2 linked regions of the Homo sapiens genome follow. The protein of the gene in region 1 purifies or fractionates together with the protein of each later gene. This does not show direct contact. Each region holds a gene or a part of one and is shown in the gene's direction. Other genes may lie near its edges.

Evidence for each region. Proteins that work in one complex are often made in the same cells at the same time.
Region 2: the proteins of STK32A (region 1) and CST7 purify together in Homo sapiens (affinity purification with mass spectrometry; one large-scale study listed by BioGRID and IntAct). This does not show direct contact.

The regions. Positions count from the first base shown.
Region 1 is NC_000005.10:147,273,026-147,276,525, forward strand, and holds part of STK32A (serine/threonine-protein kinase 32A), read left to right. Parts: intron 1-2,938; exon of another isoform or gene 2,939-2,960; coding exon of another isoform or gene 2,961-3,006; intron 3,007-3,500.
Region 2 is NC_000020.11:24,952,269-24,955,768, forward strand, and holds part of CST7 (cystatin-F precursor), read left to right. Parts: intron 1-3,500. UniProt on the Homo sapiens protein: Inhibits papain and cathepsin L but with affinities lower than other cystatins. May play a role in immune regulation through inhibition of a unique target in the hematopoietic system.

The DNA.
Region 1 (3,500 bases):
CCTCAAAAATAGAAAAAAAGGGCATTCCTGCCTTACCTTCTACAAGGGTCTTCTCTGAAATTCCAAGCATCAGGGTGTTATAACAGACTCTAAAAAGGGTTTCCTTTTTTCTTTCCTTTAACATTGCTTATTGCACAGCATGTTGAGACAGAGAAGATGGTAAGTGAAATAAAACAAAGGAAATAAAAAGTATCATCACTGGGTTTCAGAATCAGCATGGTTTATGCTAAGGGAAAGACTTGGAAACCTTGATTCAACATATAATTCTAAAAAGAGACAGGAAGAAATCCCACCTTGTTTCCTCTGATTCTACCTTTGGGATGGGTAGGTATGTTATACAATAAGAATAACATTAAGATGACTGCTATAAAAATAGTGGTTAAGAGCCTGGGTCCAGAATGAGAAAGGTGGATATTGAATTTACCTGAGTGCAACTAGGCAGACTCAGGTGAGTTGATTTTACCCACTCCTCCACTCAAATACTGGGTATGGCTTTGCAAAAACATTCAACCAGTTATCCACATAGTTGGTCTTAACTTTCCATGTGACTATAATGAATATAAACTTGCTAATGAGCAGAGTGTGATTTTAGTGTTTAAACTATTTTTTCCCGAATAATAGTTCCTAGATGCAGTTAATGAGCCTTATTGGGTACCCACACAAAGGAGATAGAATTGTCTGTTGGACTTTTTGAAAAACTTTCTTGGTTTTAAAAAAGGTACATTTCTAAAGGATTTTTATGTGTAGTTTTGACTAAACAAGTCTTTGCCTTACTTTCTGTTTTTAAAATCTAACCTCAACATTAATATGTCACTATACTGGTTATAACCATAACAAATTATTTCATCTCTCTGAGCCTGAGTACCCTCAACTGTATACACTATAAGGATGTGAAGATAGAAAGTGACATAAAAATGAAACATGTACTGACCACCCTCATAAACAGATCCCTCATACATATAGAATGTCTGTGCCTGGTTGATTAGTGAAGGAATGTGTACTCACCCAAAAGAAAAACTCTGAAATAAGTACTTTTAGATATTTACTTTTTCAATATTCCAAGTAATTATCACAACATTAAGGTGCATTCAGCTTTGTGTGTTAACGTGGTATACCTCCAGGCAACTTTTAGGATACTGTACAGATACAATGGCTGTGAAGGCTGGGATGAAAAGACCTGTGCGAAGCAGGACTGAGGCACTTAAGGAAGGCCTCAGAGTTACATCTCCTTTGCCTGTTTTCTTGCAGGCCACATACCCTAGCCCAGCCCTGTCAGCATGAGTGAGAACCAGGCTCTGCCTTTGCCCACACTAAACCACTACCTTCAAGGCCCCACAAAGACCCAGTGTCTCCAGACGGTCTTTCTGTCTTCTTAACACTCAGAGCTCCATGAACCAGAATGAAAGTTTTGGAACATGATCCAAGTAAAAGACTCAAGAAGTAAACACCACTAAGGTTAACTTTGCTTTAGAGGTTAGAGAAAACAATGCAAGGACACCACACCAGAGACTATGAAAACCCCAAATGTATTGAAATGATGCTGATTCCATTTACCTCCATATTGCCTGATAATACCCAGGTGCTACCATGGCAGCTTAAGGTGGTATTTGCTGGGAGCTATGATACTCTTTAAGAAGTAATAGCACTACTAGTAAAAGCAGTTAGTTCCAGGCAATATTCTATGCACATGACCCATTTCATCTTCTTATAAACCTCATGAAGTATATATTATTTTCATCCTCATTTTATAGATGCAGAAAGGGAAGCATAGACGTAAATTTCCAAGATTACACAGCTATTTATTGTTGGAACTGAGATTTGAATTCAGGTTGTCTGTCTTCAGGGACTGTGCTCTTAATCTCAGTGGTCATCAAACTTTTCTGTAAAGAGCCATCCAGTAAATATTGTGGGTTTATATACATTCTCTATTGCATATCCATTGGTTTTCAAAAATAATCCTATACAAATTCAAAAACCATTCTTAGCTCATAGACTACACAAAAACAGATTGCAAGTCCAGTTTGGCATTTACTGTTCCTATTGATCAAGGGTTTAAGAACATAGTGAGTACACTATTCCACATTCCCCTTAGGCAAATCCTGTATGTTTATAGTACTGTTAGATTTCTGTTGACAAAATAATCCACAATTCTGACTTCATCTCTCTCTCTCTCTCTCTTTCTGATTTTGTTTGAATTTATGAGGTTTAGTTGCATTTTCAAGTTAGTCTTCCTGCTAACTAGTGATTCTTTTGTTGAACATTTAAAAAGGGACTGTCAGGATTGAATAAGAGAACCTCTTCCAGTCACTTTTTTTTTTTTGAGAAAGGATCTCACCCTGTTGCCCAGGCTGGTGTGCAGTGGTGCAATCACAGATAACTGCAGCCTCAACCTCTTAGGTTCAAGTTCCCCCTGCCTCAATTTCTGAGTAGCTGGGACTACAGATGTGCACCACCATGCCTAGCAAATTTTTAATTTTTTGTAGAGATGGGGCCTCACTACATTACCCAAGCTAGTCTTGAACTCCTGGGCTCAAGCAATGCTCCTGCCTCGGCCTCCCAAAGTGCTGGGATTACAGGTGTGAGTGACTGCATCCAGCCTCTTATAGTCACTTTTAATCTATCATTGGCTTTCCCATTAGATTGTACTGTTATACAAGGAAGTGACTTCAGACAGTACGGCACTAGACTAGAGGCTGTGTTTTTCTTTAATAAAGGCATAAATGAGATGAATTGCTCTAAGGCTTTAGGCTTGTCCCTTTTCTGAGAAGTGACCTTTGGGAGGTCACATTTAGTTAAAGCAGTTTTGCTAGTATAAATTTACCAGGATCCTGACATGTAATCCTGTATCATTTTCAGTAAGGTTAAAATGGTATATGAAAGGAGGTGGTTCACAAAATGGATTAATATCAACATGGAACTTCATGCTTTCTAGGTACCTGCTGCATCCTTGGAGATTCAAAATGTCATCATGGCATTCTAGGCTAGACTGGCAGTGGAGAAATCACTGTGAGTTATTGGATTTGCTCAAGATAAAATCTTGAATTTGCAAATAAATCCTGGTCAGCTTTTTTTAACACTCTTGTGGTAAATAATACACAACTCAGATTCATGTAATGGGTGTAAGAAAATCATTGCTTTGGTTATTTCAGTATGAAACTCAAGAGAAAACTTACTGAAGTGTTTTTAAAATTATTCTGACCACAACCCAAGGTAAAACATAAGCCAAAAAACATATCATGACATAGTAAATGAAGCCAGGATTGTATATATATGTCTACTCAAGTATATGAAATGGAAACAACAGTTTCAGAGGCAGTACTATGCTTACTACATTTGAGGCATTTCTGGTATTTTCTATTCTATTTAATTAAATTTTTAGTACTTCTTATTTTAGCTACATTTATTTCATAACTCATTAATGGGTTTTGACTCACAGCTCAAAAACACTGCCTTAGAGAATCCAAATGTTCACACTATCCATATTTATAAGAAGTAATTGT
Region 2 (3,500 bases), on another chromosome or scaffold:
AGGCTCAGAGAGGTTAGGCAGCTTGCCTGAGATCATACAGCCAGTGAGAAGCAGAGCTGGAATTCAAACTCCGGGTGTGTCCCAGTGGGTTAAGGTCGGGACTGATCTGGTAGAGCTCAGTGTCCTGTCTGTGCCAGGGGCATGTGTGTGCCCTCAAAAGATAGACTCCGCCATTAGCCATCAGGCAGAGACCCAAGAGCACAGCGGGCAGGTGTGGCCCCAAGGACCCAGGCTCTCTGAATTTTGATGGTGTCATGTGAGAGGGCTTGGGGTGAAGCGTCTCCAGGTGGGCAGAGTGAACACCAGCACCTCTAAGCTGGACTTGCACCCCCCCAACACCCCAGTGCTCAGGCACAGCCATGCAGACCTTATGCTCTGGGTGATGGGGGCCGATGGGGCCCCTCTCAAAGGGTCTCCCCACCCAGCTCAGTACTGGCCCATGGAAAGGGCACCCCCTGAGGTGACACAGGGAGGGACACCAGCAGGGACCATCTGCGTCCAGCTCTCGGCACCCAGGTCCCCATCTCAGGGATGGTTTCACAAGCAGGGGCTTCCCAACCTCCCGGCCACACCTAGAACACTCCTGAAAGAGGGAGGAGGTGGGCAATGCCAGCCCCCGCTGTGCCCACCCATTTTCCTACTAAAGGCAGGTGGGAAGGGTCTGCCTGGTGCCACCACAGCGATCCCTGCCCATGTTTTCTCTCCTCAGGTTGGCTTAGTGCCAGCTCTGCCACTGGGCCTATGCTCTGAGGACAGGAACGTACCCTGCCCAGGGCATGCCCAGCAGCTGTCAGAAACTGCAGCTCCCTGCTGCCTTGGGCAGAGGCCCTGGCAACTCCCCTGGCCTGGCAGCTTCACATCTGCACCCCATTGCACACTGGTCCTCGGGCACCCGGACAGGACTTTGCCCCATGCACACAGCCAGTAGATGCTCAGAAACACGGGGCTGCAGCAGAAAAGCAGGGTGATCGCAGGATCACCAGACAAGGAGATGGAGGAAACTCAAATCCATCTCCCCGAGGAGGCTGGGGCCCGGGTTTTTAAGGGTTCTGGAGCTCGATAGCTGGAAGGGGCAGCGTGATGTCACAGCACAGGGAGAGGAAGAAGCTGTATTTTCGTGATGATCCTGTTCCTCCGTGGGGGGTTTCCAAACTGGTTGCTGGAATTGGGATCTGAAAAACATCTTGGGCCAGCAGCAGCCTGATTCAAGCTTAATTATGAGTATCTTTCTGTCCAGAACCTGGCATGCAATTCTTGTCAACCTTAGGGGACAGTTTCATTTGCCTTCCTGTGACCATGTGTCCTGGGGCCTGCTCAGCACCTGGTATCATCAGGCCCTGCCCGCCCCTGCCTCACCTCCAGCTTCTACGTCTGGAAGCTCCCTACCTGTCTCAGGCATGGCCCACCTCCCCTCCCACCCCGCATTAGAAGCAGTGGTGGGCTGGGGTCAGGCTGCCCCGGCAGGCTCCTGGTGCGAGCCTCGCACATGGCAGGTCCCCCATTCCCCTCGAGCAGGCCTGGCCTGCCCCAGGCATTGTTTCTATACAGACGGATTTTATGTGCCTTTTGTTTCTTCTCACAAGCCTGACGGTCCGTGGGTTCTTTCCGTTGACGTCATCGCGGCCATCACCACCATCACCCTCTGCACCCAGCAGCAGCCTCCAGCGGGGTCTCCCCAACTCTTCCCAGCACGTAGCTCCCTCCTCCCCTAGGCCAGTTCAGCCACCTTGCAGCTGCTCCCCCATCCCCTGCCCCTCTGCTCACCCATTTTACCCTCAGGTTGGTGTCCTCTCCTGTGCCCCAGGCCTGCTCTGCCTCCCCACCACTGTGGGCGGGGCCTGTCTTAGAGTCCACCCTGCATCTCCCCTAGCACCTGCCAAACAGTCCGTCTTGAATGAGGAAAAAGTGAGAGTGGTGTTTCGAATTAGTCACACCTGGGTTTAGCCCCCCACCCTGCACTCCAAGCTCTTGGTCTCCTCGCCTGCAGAATGGGCACACATGAGAAGAAACAGCATCGCAGGGCCCTCCAGACAGAGCAGGCAGAGGAGGAGAGCACCCATTCTCCCGCTCCCTGCCTTCAGTTGCACGGAGCAAACCCAGAGCCCCCTCCCTGGGGGGTCCTCTTCACAGTTCCTTGACTCCATCGGAGGCTCTCAAAGAGCTGCATTCGCTCACCACCTGCTGGACTGCTTGTTTTCTTCCCTGAAGATGAGTGGCCTCTTTGGGGTGTTAATTCTTAATGATCAACATTTCCTTGTTAATTTCTCTAAACAAATCATCCTAAAAATAGGTTTGACTTTTAAACAATTTTAAATTAAAAACTGAGCTTTTAATATCTGTTTAGACAACTGTAAGACAGTGAAAGGTTTATTGACTTGAAGCCTACATTTTAGGAAACATGTAGTTAAATAAAAAATACCAATTTCAGTATTTTTCATAACCTTTTTGTAACTTTACCACAATCTTTTAGGAACTAACGTCATGAGCTTGGAAGGGAAATTTATTTGAAGTTCAGCGTAAACTGAGTTTCACTTCATTTTTAAAATTCTGTTAATCTCAAGCAAAAGTAAATACATTTTATTTTTTAAAAAAGTTAATAGTGGTTAGCTTTAAGATATTAAAAATAATTATTTTTTGTTATGCTCCTCTGTATTTTTCAAATTTCTACCAAAAATAGGTAAGTTTATAGTCAGAAAAAGCCATAAAATGTAGTTTTTACAAAGAAAACAATGGACAGCCATATTAATGTAATGTGAGGAAAGAAAGCAAAACAACAACAACAACAACAAAAAAAAACGCTAATCTGACAGCAAAAATACACTGAACACATGCTACCCCTTCCATACACGTGTCTCTTTCTCTGCTGTTCAGATGACAGTGATGAGCTGAAACCAAGCTGGTTTCCAGAACAGTTTTTTGTTTTAACTAAAAGCCACATTCAACTTCCTGTCATCAACAAGCACAAGGACCAGAAGGAGCTGCCTTTGGCTCTGGGGACCCCTCCTTCCTGATGGTAACACTGCAGGTCCCAAGGGACCCCTCACTGCCAACACCAGTGTCAGAGTCACCTGAGAGCCTGGGGAAATGCAGGTTCCAGGACCTCCCCTAGATGGCCAAGCTCAGCCCCTGGTGCTCAGGAACAGAGCGGTTTCTATTCCATCTTCAGAGGCCTAAAGTCTTTTTTTTTTTTTTTTTTTCTGAGACGGAGTCTCGCTCTGTTGCCCAGGCTGGAGTGCAGTGGCGCGATCTCGGCTCACTGCAAGCTCCGCCTCCCGGGTTCACGCCATTCTCCTGCCTCATCCTCCCGAGTACCTGGGACTACAGGTGCCCGCCACCATGTCCAGCTAATTTTTTGTATTTTTAGTAGAGACCAGGTTTCACCGTGTTTGCCAGGATGGCCTCGATCTCCTGACCTCGTGATCTGCCCGCCTCGGCCTCCCAAAGTGCTGGGATTACAGACGTGAGCCACCTAAAGTCTTCTTAAGCAAAGGCTGCAGCAG